4 linked regions of the Homo sapiens genome follow. The protein of the gene in region 2 purifies or fractionates together with the protein of the main gene of each other region. This does not show direct contact. Each region holds a gene or a part of one and is shown on either strand. Other genes may lie near its edges.

The links.
Region 1: the proteins of SLF1 (region 2) and PPM1F purify together in Homo sapiens (affinity purification with mass spectrometry; one large-scale study listed by BioGRID and IntAct). This does not show direct contact.
Region 3: the proteins of SLF1 (region 2) and NSMCE4A purify together in Homo sapiens (affinity purification with mass spectrometry; one large-scale study listed by BioGRID and IntAct). This does not show direct contact.
Region 4: the proteins of SLF1 (region 2) and CD8A purify together in Homo sapiens (affinity purification with mass spectrometry; one large-scale study listed by BioGRID and IntAct). This does not show direct contact.

The regions. Positions count from the first base shown.
Region 1 is NC_000022.11:21,928,527-21,932,443, reverse strand, and holds part of PPM1F (protein phosphatase 1F), read left to right. Parts: intron 1-1,152; coding exon 1,153-1,296; intron 1,297-3,917. UniProt on the Homo sapiens protein: Dephosphorylates and concomitantly deactivates CaM-kinase II activated upon autophosphorylation, and CaM-kinases IV and I activated upon phosphorylation by CaM-kinase kinase. Promotes apoptosis.
Region 2 is NC_000005.10:94,663,538-94,667,454, reverse strand, and holds part of SLF1 (SMC5-SMC6 complex localization factor protein 1), read right to left. Parts: intron 3,706-3,917; coding exon 3,547-3,705; intron 1,595-3,546; coding exon 1,431-1,594; intron 1-1,430. UniProt on the Homo sapiens protein: Plays a role in the DNA damage response (DDR) pathway by regulating postreplication repair of UV-damaged DNA and genomic stability maintenance.
Region 3 is NC_000010.11:121,961,380-121,965,296, forward strand, and holds part of NSMCE4A (non-structural maintenance of chromosomes element 4 homolog A), read right to left. Parts: coding exon 3,907-3,917; intron 1,950-3,906; coding exon 1,859-1,949; intron 729-1,858; coding exon of another isoform or gene 622-728; exon of another isoform or gene 374-621; intron 139-373; coding exon 44-138; intron 1-43. UniProt on the Homo sapiens protein: Component of the SMC5-SMC6 complex, a complex involved in DNA double-strand breaks by homologous recombination. The complex may promote sister chromatid homologous recombination by recruiting the SMC1-SMC3 cohesin complex to double-strand breaks.
Region 4 is NC_000002.12:86,788,114-86,792,777, forward strand, and holds the start of CD8A (T-cell surface glycoprotein CD8 alpha chain isoform 1 precursor), read right to left. Parts: upstream 2,801-4,664; 5' UTR 2,713-2,800; coding exon 2,664-2,712; intron 2,569-2,663; coding exon 2,215-2,568; intron 1,638-2,214; coding exon 1,527-1,637; intron 1,321-1,526; coding exon 1,210-1,320; intron 448-1,209; coding exon 417-447; intron 1-416. UniProt on the Homo sapiens protein: Integral membrane glycoprotein that plays an essential role in the immune response and serves multiple functions in responses against both external and internal offenses. In T-cells, functions primarily as a coreceptor for MHC class I molecule:peptide complex.

The sequences.
Region 1 (3,917 bases), on a different chromosome or scaffold from region 2:
GCAGAGCCAGGCTTTGCATCTCAATAGAAAACCATGCAATCTCTGCAGCTGCAAGGACCCCAGTGAAAAGCAGGCAAGCCTCCACTCCTGGCCTCTCACCTCAGCCCCAGGAAGTGACAAAGGCCTCTGAGCTCAAGGCAGCCTCAGAGTAGAAAAGGGATTCTCTGAAGCAGGCGTAACTGCTTTATTGAGGCTGGGCACAGTGGCTCACGCCTGTAATCCCGGCACTTTGGGAGGCAGAGGCCGGCGGATCACTTCAGGTTAGGAATTCGAGACCAGCCTGGCCAACATGGTGAAACCTCGTCTCTACTAAAAATACAAAAATTGGCCAGGCGCGGTGGCTCATGCCTGTAATCCCAGCACTTTGGGAGGCTGAGGTGGGTGGATCACTTGAGGTCAGGAGTTTGAGACCAGCCTGGCCAACATGGTGAAACCCTGCCTCTACTAAAAATTAAAAAAAAAAATTAGCCAGGTATGGTGGCACGCGCCTATAGTCCCAGCTACTTGGGAGGCTGAGGCATGAGAATCACTTGAGCCCAGGAGATGGAAGTTGCAGTGAGCTGAGACTGTGCCACTGCACTCCAGCCTGGGTGACAGAGCAAGATTTTGCCTCTAAATAAATAAATAGCCAGGCGCAGTGACTCACGCCTGTAATCCTAGCACTTTGGGAGGCCAAGGCAGGCAGATTGCCTGAGCTCAGGAGTTCAAGACCAGCCTGGGAAAGAAACATGGCAAAACCCCGTCTCTACTAAAAACACAAAAAATTAGCCAGGCGTGGTGCTGTACGCCTGTAATCTTAGCTACTTGGGAGGCTGAGGCAGGAGAATCACTTGAACCCGGGAGGCGGAGGTTGCACTGAGCCGAGATTGTGCCACTGCAGCCCAGCCTGAATGACAGAGCAAGACTCTGTCTCTAAATAAATAAATAAATAAATAAATAAACATCTTTATTGAGATACAATTGACAGGTAGTAAGTGGTGCATATTTGAAGTCCACAATTTGGCAAGTTTTGGCTTATACACATATACACCTGTGGATTCCTCACCACAGTAACGGAAGTATTCATCACCCCCGGAAGCTTCATCCTGCCCCGTGTCATCCTCTGCCCTTCCCTACCTCCTCTCAACTCTCATGGGCCCTCTCTCCCTGCAGCGGCTGCAGAGCGGCACCACAGGTGTGTGTGCGCTCATTGCAGGAGCGACCCTGCACGTCGCCTGGCTCGGGGATTCCCAGGTCATTTTGGTACAGCAGGGACAGGTGGTGAAGCTGATGGAGCCACACAGACCAGAACGGCAGGTAAGGGGATCCCTGCGCCCAGGCCCAGGATATTCCTGGCCTCCATCATGCTGGGCCCATAGGGGAACCCCACCCAGCCTGGGAACTTCAGGTAGTAGTAATCCTGGCACCTTTCAAGAGGGAGGGCTCCCTGCCTGATTTGAGTGGCCGGGGGTCCCACGTGAGCCCTTCCTGAGAGCTCTGTGGGTCACAGCTATATGGAGCCCAGAGCTCCGGGGGAGAGCAGAGCCCTCTGCACTGACAGGCATCCCAGTGCAGTCAGTGCAGCCCAGTGCAGACCAGAGCCCATCATACACACGGACAAGGAGGCCACAGGCTGTGGGTGAGGAAGGCCTCAGGGAGGTGATGCTGCCCCGAGGCTGGAGGGAACCTGGCTTGGGGCTGTACTGACTAGAGGCTGCCTGGGACCCTGGCACTCAGGTCATCACCTGGACATGAGGATGACAGTCCCACTCAGACCTCTTCTCAGAAGACTGTCTCATCCATGTGTCTCCTGAGGTTGGATTGCGAGCATTCAGATATCATGGAATGACTGTTTATCCCTCAAACCCCACTTTTCCCACGTGCTGTTCTCCACCAGCTATGTTTGATTAACCATGCACATGGTGGATAATTCTACGTCAGCACATAGGAGCACCCATCCTTTCTTGGGGCTGCGGACATTGCATTCATCATGCAGTCCCTTGTGGGTGAGCATGAAGATCTTTTCAGTCTTTCGGTGCTAAAAACAATGCATCTCTACCTACTTTGTGCAGCATTAATTGCTCAGAGTCAAGTGTACCTATATCTGTAGGACACATCCCCAGAAGTGGGATGGCTAGGTTGGAACTGATGCACGTACAGTCTGGGTAGATTTGCCAAGCTTCCCACCTCAGGCCATGCCAGCCTGGGCTGGCACTACATTCCCAAGAAGGTCCATTTCCCCACAGTCTCACCAGGCTGCAGGATTCTTCCTGTCAGGTAAGAAGCCTGTCTTGGGGCAATTGTTAAGTTTGCTTTTCTGTTACAGAGTGAGTTTGAGCGTGTTTTCAAAAGCTGAAGATCATTTACACAGCCTTTCCTGCAAACACTGTTTTTTTCCTTTGCCTGTTTTTCTTATCAGTTTATAGGTTCCTTGTATATGTGAAGGAGGTTGGTTCCTTGTCTGTGATGATTTGCAAATGTTTTTCCATGCATCTTTTATTTTTGTTTATGGGCTTTTGCCACATGGAGGCTTTGTGTTTTTCTGTAGTTGAGTAGTCTTTTTGTGGCTTCTGGTTTGGAAAGCACATAGAGACACCAGGACTTGATGATTGTAACAGTCAGGGGCAGCTACATTCCTTGGCCTTTCACTGCGGCTCACGGTCTGGTATGGGCCCCCTGTACGTCCTCTCCCCATTGTACAGAGGAGAAAACTGAGGCTCAGTCACTTGCCCAGAGCACACCGCCAAAGTCACAGATAGTCTCTGCCACTCCCCTGCCTCCACCACCGTGGGGGAATTTGGCACCTGCTCCCTAGTGGGCTCTCCTCCCCAGGATATGCAGTCAGATGAAATGTGGCCAAGTCAGGATTCGTGCTGGGCCCACTCCCACCTGCTGCCTGCACACCTACAGGCTCAGCATTCAGCACCCCATTAAAGCCCAGTGGGGGCTCTGTTCAAACACTGCCTGAGTCCTGCAGTATGGCGTCGTGGCAGAGCATGGACAGATGGCCTTGCCTGGTCCCGGCTCCACCGCTTCCAAGTCCATCACACAGGGGTCCCTGGAGGTTTGGGGTAAGGATTGAGTGTCCCAGTGCATGTGGAGCACAGAGATCAGAGCTTGCACAAGAGAAGCACACACAGGTGTCTGTGTTCTTGGCTGCAGCCCGCATGGGCCAAGGAGTTCAGATCCAGTGCCCCCCACCTCCCCTTTCCTGCCGCCATGCTCTGTAGGCTTGGCCCCTCCTGCTGTGATCCTGATCACAGCCTTCCACCCTAGAGAATTAATCACAGATCCAGGCCAAGGTTCTCCCACAAAAACAAGCATCATGTCGGTTACAAGAGCAAGAAACTGGCCTCAACTTGGCGAGCTTCAACGGGGGTCCAGCAGCGGCCCAGAGCAGCTTCCAGGAGTACGTGGGGGGAGTGCGTGGTGCTCTGCCTTGTTCTGCGGCTGTCTGAACAGTCTCCTGCCTCTGCACTCAGTTCAGCCTCCAAACACTGAGTGCCCACTCTGCACAAGATACTTTGTTGAGGCAGTGAGATAACACAGGACCCACTTCCTGCCTCTAAGTCTAATGGGGGAGCAGGAGGAGGGCAAGGACCTGGCAGGATGAGGCAGAGAGATGAATGGAATGGAGCCGCATCTCAGGCAGTTGCAATTCCTGCAGGCCAGGGGAGAGACCAGGAGGAAAGGGCAGGTTATGCCAGAATCAGGGCCAGGTGTGGAGGTGTGCCCCAAGTGATCCTCCCACCTCTCAAGCCTCAGGAGACAGGAGGATGGCTTGAGCCCTAGAGGTTGAGGCTGCAGTGAGCTATGTTCATGACACTGCACTCCAGCCTTGGCAACAGAGTGAGACCCTGTCTTCAAAAAACAAAAACAAGCCCCAGAATCAGTGGGTAGAAGACTCGGGGCAGGGGAGAAGACCACCCACCTGCTGC
Region 2 (3,917 bases):
CCAAGATCAATAAAGCAGCTACTGCAATAGTTTATATAAGAAGAAACAGGAACTTTAAAATAAAGACAATTGACAGTGAAGAAAGGAATAGATTTGGAAATTATGAAGGATGTCAGCCACATAAACTCTATTTTCTCACATCATATACCTATGCTGGGCTTGTACTGTTGGGCTTGTACTTTTGTGCGGTATTGTTTACATCTCAGTCACTTTCAAAGTGCAGGAACTGTTATTTAAATCATCTTTTTAATCCCTAAAATGTAGTACAGTGTCTGGCTCTCCGTAAGTACTCAAGAATTTGTTAAAAGAATGAATAAATGCATGCTGGTTAACTGATTAGCTCACTTTAAATATATCACAACCAAGATGGTATGTGAATCTTTATGATCTCAAAGAGCTAACCAGAGGTCTAGCCTTTGCATGGCTAGTCAGGTGTCCTTTCTCCACTATGAACCTCCTGAAACTGGACACTTAAATTAAAAAAAAAAAAAAAAAAAAAAAGATCTTCCCAGCCAGGCGTGATGGTCCACTCCTATAATCCCAGGACTTTGGGAGCCCAAGTCAGGCAGATCACTTGAGGCCAGCAATTCGAGACCAGCCTGGCCAACATGGTAAAAGCCCATCTCTACTAAAAATGAAAAAATACAAAAATTAGCTGGACGTGGAGGCACATGCCTGTAACTCTAGCTACTTGGAAGGCTAAGGCATAAGAATTGCTTGAGCCTGGGAGGTAGAGGTTACAGTGAGCCAAGATCAGGCCACTGCACTCCAGCCTGGGTGACAGAGCGAGACTCATGTCTCAAAAAAAGAAAAGATCTTCCCAGAAGAATAAGGGTTATCAAATACAGTTATTTGAATAGCAAGGGGAAAACATTTTCTGTTAGGGAGAAAGAAGGTGAAACAGAATTTCTGGAGACACTAACAACTGAAAGACAGAGGAAGGTCTAGGCAGTGACAGCATGTGCAGAAGCATAAAAGAGATGACATATTTAGGAAATATTAAGTTCTGTTTTAAAATTCAAATTTCTAGCTGAAAAAAATATAACTGAAGCCCTAAAATAGATACTATAGTTACAAATGTCTACACTTTTGGTGACAAAAACTGATGATATGCATATTCCATAAATTAATTTTCTTCATTTAAAAAACAATACACAAATTTCTATTTTGTTAAAAATAATAATGATTTGGCTTTCTAGTGAGTCCATTTCATGCATTCATTTTTTATTTTTTTAGGAAACAGACTGAAAAACATGACCAATATAGATTTGCCTTTTCATAAGTTTTGCAATAAATACAATACATATTTGTATTTGCAACAAAACTTTTCCAAAAGTAGAAAGATACTTCTTTCATCAGTATCTTAAAAAAATAATTAGCATAACAACTACTCAATGAAATGTAGCATCGTCAAATGTGAAATTCCTTACCTGATAAGGACTTCTACTAAAGACCATGCTCCTTTCATACAAGTTGGACACTGAAACAACTCTAAATAATATCTCGACATGGCTGGAGACTTCCAAGGAGGATGCAGGTGAAGAAGAGCTGACAATATATGAAAGTATCGACCAGAAAATGTATCTATGTTATCCTATTATTTAAAAATAAACAAACAAATAAAACACTATAGCTAAAAGTAGTTTGACTCTCTAATTCAGTCTAAAACCAAAACAGTAACCCTGGCCTAACTTTCTTTTTTGAGACGGAGTCTGGCTCTGTCACCCAGGCTGGAGTGCAGTGGCACGATCTTGGCTTACCTCAACCTCCGCCTCCTGGGTTCAAGCGATTTTTCTGCCTCAGCCTCCTGAGTAAGTAGCTGGGACTACAGGCACCCACCACCATGCCTGGCTAATTTTTGTATTTTTAGTAGAGATGGGATTTCACTATGTTGGCCAGGCTAGTCTTGAACTCCCGACCTTGTGATCTGCCCACCTCAGCCTCCCAAAGTGCTGGGATTACAGGTGTGAGCCACCACGCCCGGCCTAACGCTGGCCTAAGTTTCTTGCCAAATATACGTGTTTAGACAAAGGAGAGCAGATGGAAGCATCATGTTTAGCTAATTAAATAAAGCAACTGAGAGACAGGCACACTCTATGTACAGCTGATACCTGAATAACAGGTTTTAACTGCATGGGTCCACTTACACATGAATTTTTTTCCAATAAATGCAGCCTACCCTTCACGTCCATAGGTTCTACAACTGCAATTAAATACAGTATTCTGTATTTGGGAGGCCTCGGCCTCTGAAAGTGCTGGAATTACAGGTGTGAGCCACAGCACCCGGCCTACTAAGAAGTTTTAATTTCCTCACCTGTAAAATAAAGATAATTCCTGCCCTTGCTGCTGAATGAGATTATGTAGTTCAAAGAGGATGATATGTATGACTGTATCTTATTAGTTATTGTATTAATTATTTTCTATTGCCTTCAGTAGTGAAGGAAATTTTTTTCCCTAGTAGTAAGGGAAAATTTTACAATTACCTCTAAAAGAAAAACCTTTAAAAATACAGTATTCACAGGATGTAAAACCTTCGTATGTGGAGGGCTGACTTTTCCTATAAGTGCAGGTTCTGAAGAAGCAACTGCAGGACTTGATTATGTGCAGATTTCAGTATCCACAAAGGTCCTGAAACCAATATCCTGTGACAGCAAGGGATGACTCTATCTATACATTGGGTAATCCCTTCTATTAACACTACCTTAGATGGAATACACATTTTCCTTTTCACAATTATAGTGAGATTTAAGAGGTCTCAAATGTTACCTGAAAGGAACTAAAAGTAACAAACTATTCATGCAACATGCTTACTTATCACCAACATAACATACCTGACAAAGCTTATGCCTGTTATGTTATCAAATTAGCACCTTGGTGAAGGGCATGATTAGAAAGCGATCTTTGAATATTTGTTCCTATTGGTTTACACAGTTTGGGTATGTTCCCAGCATGGGCAACATAGCAAGACTCCATCTCTACAAAAAATTTAAAAATTAGCCAGGCATGGTGGCATGCGCCTACAGTCCCAGCTACTTGGGAGGCTGAAGCAGGGGGACTACTTGAGCCCAGGAGGTTGAGGCCACAGTGAGCCATGATCACACCACTGCAGTCCAGCCTGGACAACAGAGAGGGAACTTGCCTCTATTTCTTTTTAAACAAAGAGTATGTTCATTATGTATACTATAAATAAAAATGATAATCATCAATGTACTAATGGAGTAATTTACCAAATGTAATTCTAGATCACCATAATCTGAATTTTATATTTGATACTTTACTGCCGTGAGAAAAATTAGATAACCTTTTTCCCCAAAACAAAATTATCTTAGAAATCCTGAGAAAATCATTAGCTAAAGCACTAAGAGTAGTACCTAGTATGTAGCTGGAAAACAGAACAGTAGTAATAAATGGGTACTGCATTAGTGAAATGAAGAAAAAAAAACACTGAACAGGGAAAATAAACTGTAAACATACAAAAAGTGAGAAAATGTTCACATTTTAACATTCTTTGAAAAAAAGATTATAAATCCTTAAGGCTGCTCTTACCTGTAGAACGTTCTCTAGAAGGGCATGAAGAACGCATACAGGAGGGATATAATGTGCCTGCAAAGTGGAAAGTTCCTCAATTGCTTCTTTAAAAAAATGTCCTTCTATGAGGCTTTCAATTAAATTTAATACACCTCTGGGAAATTCAGCATTTTTAACCTAAGAAAGGAAAGATTCTATGATTCAGAGAAAAGAAAGATAAAATTTTGCAATCAAATCATGAATTAGTAAGAATTTATTATTTATTTATTCATTCATTCATTTGAGACGGAGTCTCACTCTGTTACCCAGGCTGGAATGCAGTGGTGCGATCTCGGCTCACTTGCAACCTCCGTCTCCCAGGTTCAAGTGATTCTCCTGCCTCAACCTCC
Region 3 (3,917 bases), on a different chromosome or scaffold from region 2:
AAAAGCATATAAAAGCAATTAGAAAAATAATCTTTAATCTTACCCGTATAATGAAGGAAACATGAAAGATGTTTTCCACTGTACGGGGGAAAGAATGAGGATCAACCACAAAGTCAAAGAAGGACATTGGGGTATCAGCTATAGACAAAAAGAGAAAAAAAAATTGATTTTTGCTTGTCATTAATATCAGTACACTCTAGCGTTAGCCAGAGACAAAGAAAGGATGTGTACTCATTCCTGCTGCAGGAGTGCAAATCAATCCAACCCTTCTGGAGGCCAATTTGGCATCTCTACTAAAAACATGTATGCCCACTGACCTGGAAACCACCTCTAAGAAGCTGTGCTACAGAAATACAAGTGTAACTGCACAAAATTACATACTAAGATTTTTTACTTCAGCAATTTATACAAGAGTAAAATGCTATAAAGAACTTAATCATCCAGCTGGGCATGGCACTCACACCTGTAATCCCAGCACTTTGGGAGGCCGATGCTGGCAGATCACCTGAGGTCAGGGGTTCAAGACTAGCTTGGCCAACATGGCGAAACAATGTCTCTACTAAAAATACAGAAAAAAAATTAGCCAGATGTGGTGGCGCGTGCGCCTGTAATCCCAGCTACTCAGGAGGCTGAGGCAGGAGAATTGCTTGAATCCAGGAGGTGGAGGTTGCAGTGAGTTGAGATGGTGCCACTGCATTCCAGTCTGGGCGAAAGAGTGAGACTGTCTCCTAAAAAAAAAAAAAAAAAATAGGAACTTGGCCGGGCGCGGTGGCTCATGCCTGTAATCCCAGCACTTTGGGAGGCCGAGGTGGGTGGATCACAAGGTCAGGAGATCAAGACCATCCTGGCTAACACGGTGAAACCCAGGTTCTACTAAAAGTACAAAAGAATTAGCCAGGCGTGGTGGCGGGTGCCTGTAGTCCCAGCTACTTGGGAGGCTGAGGCAGGAGAATGGCGTGAACCCAGGAGGGAGAGGTTGCAGTGAGCCAAGATCGCGCCACTGCACTCCAGCCTGGGCGACAGAGCGAGACTCTGTCTCAAAAAAAAAAAAAAGGAACTTAATCATCCATTAATGGAGGATCTGTTAAATATATTTACAGTACAGCCATATAATGGGAATCAGTGAACAAAACAAGGGAGATCTATATGAAATGATGTGGAAGAATGTCCACATGGAAAAGTCACGTAGCAGAAGAATGTGCATATTATGATTAGCTTGGAAAAAAAGAAAAAAACAAACTTTTTTTTTTCAGATGTAGTTTCGCTCTTGTTGCCCAGGCTAGAGTGCAATGGCGTGATCTTGGCTCACCGCAACCTCTGTCTCCCGGGTTCAAGCGATTCTCCTGCCTCAGCCTCCCAAGTAGCTGGGATTACAGGAATGCACTACCACACCCGGTTAATTTTGTATTTTTAGTAGAGATGAGGTTTCTCCATGTTGGTCAGGCGGGTATCGAACTCCCAACCTCAGCCTCCCAAAGTGCTGGGATTACAGGTGTGAGCCACCACGCCCGGCCAAAACAAACTATTTAGGTAGGTGTGTATAAAACTGATAAAATAATCTGAAAATATACACATTACATTTTATAATGAGGGGAGGTGGAACAGCTACTTTTGACATTTCTCACTTGAATGGCATATTTCATTTTGTAACAAAAAAAATCCCCATCTTTTAAAGATAAAAATGAAAACGTTAACTTCAAAGTTTTCACATGAAATTTCTAAAGGGGAGAAGAATCCTCATAAAATGCATATGTATTTATTCAAATATTACATACAGCTGAAATTGCCTTTTAAATACAAGTAACCTCAGTGAACAGATAAATACAAATTGCTCCACTTTGAATGGTGTTACACTTACGATCTTCTCGAAAATATGTCTGCAACAATCCCAAGATTCTTTCTACTTCTTTCTCTGTTGCTTCTTGATGAGATTCTTCCATTCTTCTTAACTGAAAAAAGTCATTATCAAGCTGACAGACCTACTTACTGGCCTATTAACGTTTTCTTCTCTCTTGCACACCCAAACTCCTTTTCTTCTCTCTTGCACACCCGAACTCTTTTTTTTTTTTGAGACAGGGTCTTGCTTTGCCACCCAGGCTAGAGTGCAGTTGCATGATCTCGGCTCACTGTAACCTCAGACTCCTGTGCTCAAGGGATCCTACCACCTCAGCTTCTTGAGTAGCTGGCACTAGAAGCGTGCACCACTACACCTGGCTAATTTTTTTTTTTTTAATTCATTCTACCTTGTCTAAGACACCTGGCTAATTAAAAAAAATTTTTTTAGATATGGGGTCTTGCTGACCATCCTGGCTAACACGGTGAAACCCCATCTCTACTAAAAATACAAAAACTTAGCCAGGTGTGGTGACAGGCGCCTGTACTCCCAGCTACTCAGGAGGCTGAGGCAGGAGAATGGCATGAACCCGGGAGGCGGAGCTTGCAGTGAGCCGACATCGCGCCTGTAATCCCTGCGCTGTAGGAGGCTGAGGCAGGTGGATCACAAGGTCAGGAGTTCGAGACCAGCCTGGCCATTATGGTGAAACCGTCTCTATTAAAAAACACCAAAATTAGCCGGGCATGGTGGTGCCTGCCTGTAATCCCAGCTACTTGGGAGGCTGAGGCAGGAGAATGGCTTGAACCCAGCAGGCGGAGGTTGCAGTGAGCCGAGATCGCGCCACTGCACTCCAGCCCGGGTGATAGGGCAAGACTCTGTCTCAAAAAAAATTATGGTTTAAAAAAAAACAGATTTTCTGGTTTCAGTAACTTTTTTTTTTTTTTTTTGAGATGGAGTCTTGCTCTGTGGCCCAGGCTGGAGTGCAGTGGTGCCATCTCGGCTCACTGCAACCTCCGCTTCCCAGGTTCAAGCAATTCTCCTACCTCAGCCTCCAGAGTAGCTGGGATTAGAGGCACCCACCACCACATCTGGCTAATTTTTTGTACTTTTTAGTAGAGACAGGGTTTCACCATGTTGGCCAGGCTGGTTTCTAACTCCTGACCTCAGGTGGATCTGCCCGCCTTGGCCTCCCAAAGTGCTGGGATTACAGGCGTAAGCCACCACACTCGGGCAACCTTTGTTTTTTTTGAGACGGACTCTCGCTCTGTCGCCCAGGCTGGAGTACAGTGGCATGATCTCGGCTCAGTGCAACCTCTGCCTCCTAGATTCCTAATTCTCCTGCGTCAGCCTCCCGAATAGCCCGGACTACAGGCACCTGCCACCATACCTAGCTAATTTCTGTATTTTTAGTAGAGACGGGGTTTCCCCGTATTGGCCGGGCTGGTCTCGAACTCCTGACCTTGTGATCTGCCCGCCTCGGCCTCCCAAAGTGCTGGGATTACAGGCGTAAGCCACTGTGCCTGGCCTCAGTAACATTTTCATATCAATTTCTTAATAGAATAGTAACATTACCAGATTAACCATTTTCAGGTTGAACATAAAATAGCAAAATACAAAAGGGCGGTTTAGAAACAGTGGTTCTCGAGTGGGTGTGACTTTCCCCCCACCTCCCCAGGGAACATTTGTTGTCACATGTAGACATTTTTGGTTGTCACAACTCAGGGGTCGGGGGGGCTATTAGCATATAACAGGTAGAGGCTGGGGATGCCGCTAAGCATCCTACAATGCGCAGGACAGCTCCCCAAACCAACATTATCCAGCCGTAAATGTTGACAGTGCTGAGGTTGACCCTGGCTTCGGAGAACTGATCAAAACTAGAGAAATGAGTTAAAACAAAGACAAGCAGCCAATCCAATAAAATGCTTAAAGGCTTAAATAAAATGATTATTTAAGTGACAAAACCTGGCTCCAGACCCGCACACTTAGAAAAAATGGCCAAATTGCATGCACATTATTTTAACAGCTATTTTAACTTTAATGTGTTTTTTTAAAAGCAACATTTTAAAACAAACCTGGGCAGGCA
Region 4 (4,664 bases), on a different chromosome or scaffold from region 2:
AAAAACTAGACCAGCCAAGTAGGAAAAAAAATTGTTTTCTTAAGAAAACAACAAAACCCAGATGGAATAATCAGAATAAAGAGGAGGTCAGGTCCTACGAGGAGCTAGGATAAATTGGGGGAATCCCTCAGGTTTTTTTTTTTTTTTTTTGGAAGTGCCAGGTCAAATAAGATGGAGATTTACTGGAGTCACACTGCTGTTGGCACCCGCCTAACCCGGGCCTCCTTTTTCTCAAAGACACAGGCCAGATGCCAGCCTTGGCCTCTCTTTGCTCAGGAACTGGCTGACTCCCTGCCCCAGGATTTCACGGCCATGACCTCTCTCTGGGAAAAGTTCCCACTATTTGCTGCTGGGGAAACCAGGACCCCACCCCAGGGCTGGCCAAGGTGAGCAGGCTGAGTTCAAAAGAGACTCACCGGGGACATTTGCAAACACGTCTTCGGTTCCCTGGATAAGGAAAAAGAAGGGAAAAAGTGAGTGCCCCTATCCATCAATAGTCCCCAAAGACAGTGTATTTTTTGTTGTTGCTGTTGTTGTTGCTGCTGTTTTTTGGTTTTACAAAAAATCATTTCAGAACGATCATGGGCTGAAATTGGATGAGGCAAATAGGGAATTGCCTCTACGAATTCTCCTTCCTTTCCCCTATTTCTTTGAGGATTATAACTCTTGAGAGCCGGGTAAGGGCTTCTTATCCATCCTTCGTCTCAAGCATCAATTAAAAAAAATTGCAACTACAGACGCGGGCGAAAGCGGGGAGCCTGCAGACCTGATCCGGCACCTCTCTTGCATGGGACCCAAAGCAGGGTGGGCGGTTCGCCGAAGAGGGCCAAGGACGAACCTCAAACTGATGGTGGTTTTGACTAACCCTCCTGGGCACTTGACTCGGCCACAGCGGCCCCCTCCCGGCGGGCGTTTGTCATGTGTCCAGACATGTGCGCGCGCGCTGCGGGCTTCGTCGACGGAACACACCCGCTGCAGCGGCTCTGGGAACGCGGCTTTGTCTCCCAAAACCTCTCCGAGAGCGCAAGGAGCGGGAAGGGCTTTCTCGCATTCTATCTCCCAGAAAGAAGTGCCTGTACCTGCGGGGCAGCTCGGGAGTCCCAGAAAACTCAACCCCAAGCTCCCCCCTCGCAAGGTCCGCCTGGAGCTAGCAGAGCCAAGGGCAGGAGCGGGGCCGACTCCTTCCCGCCGCGATTCCTCGGGACTTACTGTGGTTGCAGTAAAGGGTGATAACCAGTGACAGGAGAAGGACCCCACAAGTCCCGGCCAAGGGCGCCCAGATGTAGATATCACAGGCGAAGTCCAGCCCCCTCGTGTGCACTGACGACACCAAAGACGCCGACATTTAGGAGAGGGCCCGGGACCTCCCAACCGCCCCACCGTCCCGGGAACGTCTCTCCGCCTCAGATCTCGGTTTCCCACCACTTGGACAGCCCTTGACTCTACCTACAGTATCAGGGCTGTCCCTGGCATGGGCTCTCCCCGCGGTGCGTGCCGCCCCCGCCCCGGGCCCCCGCACGCCTCACCTGCGCCCCCCGCCGCTGGCCGGCACGCCTCTGGGCGCAGGGACAGGGGCTGCGACGCGATGGTGGGCGCCGGTGTTGGTGGTCGCGGCGCTGGCGTCGTGGTGGGCTTCGCTGCAAGAGCAACAGAGCGTGGTTGGGGGCCAGGCTGGGGTTATGGAGGCGCCCCAGCCCCGGCCTCGCGCACCTTTCCCCACGGGGACGCCTCCCCCCGGTTTTCCTGGGAGAAGGGATAGCAGAGGAGACAGGATGGGGACCCCGGGATGCGCGCGGACCCCTGTGCTCGGGCCTCGGCTCAGCCCAGCGCACCCGGCGCCCAGAGCCGGAGCGCAGGAGCCAGCTCCCCTGCACCTGGCCTCTCTCCCGGGCTGAACCAGCAACCCTGGAGCGCGGGTTGATTGCTGTCCGCATTTTACCCACGAGCAAACGGAGGCGCAGATAATTTAAGTCATTTGCCCAGAATCACACAAGAATCCGAACTCGAGTCCAGATCGGCCGGACGTAAAAAGCCATCCCCAGTCCCTACTCAGCCTCGCGTTAGCCTCAGTTTGCTGTGTCTGTGAAATGGGAACAGTATCTAAGTCGCTTCCAGGTGCGCTAAGAGGCTTGAAAGCAGGGCCCAGGTGTGGAAAACAGGTTGAGGTGAACCCCAAGCCCCACGCGGAGAGGTGCCGCAACCCGGCGCGCGGACCTGGCAGGAAGACCGGCACGAAGTGGCTGAAGTACATGATGGAGTTGCTCAGGGCCGAGCAGAAATAGTAGCCCTCGTTCTCTCGGCGGAAGTCGCTCAGGGTGAGGACGAAGGTGTCCCCCAACCTCTTGCCCGAGAACCGCTGGGTGTCCAGCCCCTCGGCCGCCTTGGGCTTGTTTTGGGAGAGGTATAGGAGGAAGGTGGGACTGGCGGCGGCGCCGCGCGGCTGGAAGAGCCACGAGCAGCCCGACGTCGGGTTGGACAGCAGCACCTGGCACTTCAGCTCCACTGTCTCGCCCAGGTTCCAGGTCCGATCCAGCGGCGACACCCGGAACTGGCTCGGCCTGGCGGCGTCTGCAGGCGGCAAGCAGCGAGGCTGAGCCCGCAGTCCCGCGCCCCCCGCCCCCCGCCCGCCCCATCCCCTGCCTTCCCGGGCGTCTCAAACTCACGGAGCAGCAAGGCCAGCGGCAGGAGCAAGGCGGTCACTGGTAAGGCCATGACGCGCTCCCCAGGACGCTGCTTGGCTCGAAGCTCGGGCGCGAGGGGAGGCGCGCGGGAGCCGGTGGGGCGCCGAGGGGGGAAAGTTGCGCCCTTCGGCCGGCCCGGAGCCTGATTTCGCATTTGGAGGATGTGATGTCACCCGAAGCCCCCGCCGAGGAGAGTCACCCTCCTTTTCGCGGTTGTCGCCTTCCAGCCCGGCGAGGAGGCTGGGGCCCGTGAATAGGGCCGTCGAGGCAGCCTGGCCAGGCAACTGGGGGCAGCTGAAAACTGCGGGTTTGGGGATGAGGAAAAGGGCTTGGAAATAGTCCTTGGAAATGGTTGTCTTGTGAGAGTGACAGAGTGGGTGAAGGGAGACCAAAGATTTCAAGAAGTGAGGGCGAGAGTAGGCAGCAAAGGAGGGGAGTGTCCCTTCCTTTGCCTTCACTAAAGGCGTCTCTTGTACTGTCACCTTGGGACTTTTTATTGGCAAAATGGGCACTGAGGGCTGAAAAGGAAGAGGAACTAGCGACCTGCCCGCTTCTGAGGAACTCGCTAGAGCAGCCCCAGTTTTCACCGAGGAAGGACCCTCTCCCTTCCCCCAGGAGATTTCCATGAGAGCGGCAGCAGCCGAAGCTTTGGGTGTCGGTGTCAGTGCGCTGCTGACCTCATTCTTCCGGCCTTTCATCCAGCGGCTAAACTCACCACACAGCCTCATCTCTTCTTGGAGCCATTGCAACAGCCTTCAATTCACACCAGTCTCTCTCCTGATCAGTCCTCCAGCCACGTTGTTATAAAAATTATTATTCTCACAAAGGGGATCTGACAGCGTCACTGCTGCAGCCTCCCATGGCCTGCATTGCTGGATGGAAATTCAACCCCCAGCTTGGTTGACCAGCCCTTGGGTGCTGGCTCCTCCCAGCCTCCGCACAGCCCCCTGCCCTGCCTTTCCCATACACCTGCAGCTGCAGCTTCACAGGCTTGAAGTCATTCAACCCCTGCGCTCTGTGCTTTCACGCCCTTGCACTTGCGGTCCCTCGGCCTGGAATGCTGGTCTGTTTAAGCCCTGGAGGCAGCTCCTGTGCTGTCTCATTTGGACCTCATTTCTTTCACCCCCAGCTCTGGGTGCTCTGCAGGGAGGTGTGGGTGATGTGGGTGAATGCTTGGGTAGAGGCGGTTTTCTCTTTTCTGTCCCTAACACATGTGTGTCCCCTTCCTTTTTGTTTCTTTAAAAAATAAAATAAAATAAAAAAGACTGGAGTCTCGCTGTTTTGCTCAGGCTGGCCTTGGGACTCCTGAGCTCCAGTGATCCTCCCACCCCAGCCCCCTGAGTAGCTGGGACTACAGGCTCATCTTTCCTTTTTGACTGTTGCTGTCCTGAAACCTTCCAGCTCCAGTGGCATGCCCTCTTCCCATTTCTTCAGGGTTTCTGAGTCTTTCCACTTTGAATCCCATAGTGGCTGCACCTCACATTGCTACTGCTTGATCCTAGAGACAAGACACCTGGCATTCTGTGTTCCATGTGTCTGCCCCACCCATTAGTTCTGCTGGGCGAGGACCATGCCGAGACTTCATGATGTGTCCTCCATCCCCAGAAACACAGCATGGGCTGAGCTGTGCTTGTTGAACTGCATTCTCCTTGTCCTTGTGAAGTACAAACTTAAGTGTTGGATGGGTTCTTTGTCGTTGTTGCTATTTTTTTTTTTGAGATGGGGTCTGGCTGTGTTGCCCAGGCTGGAGTGCAGTGTGGCACCACCTCGGCTCACTGCAGCCTCTACCTCCCAGGCTCAAGTGATCCTTCCACCTCAGCCTCCCAAGTAGCTGGGACCACAGGAGCACACCACCATGCCCAGCTAATTTTTTGTATTTTTGGTAGAGATGGGGTTTCACCATGTTGCCCAGGCTGGTCTCCAATGCCCGAGGTCAGGCGCTTTGCCCCGCCTTGGCCTCCAAAGTGTTGAGATTACAGGTGT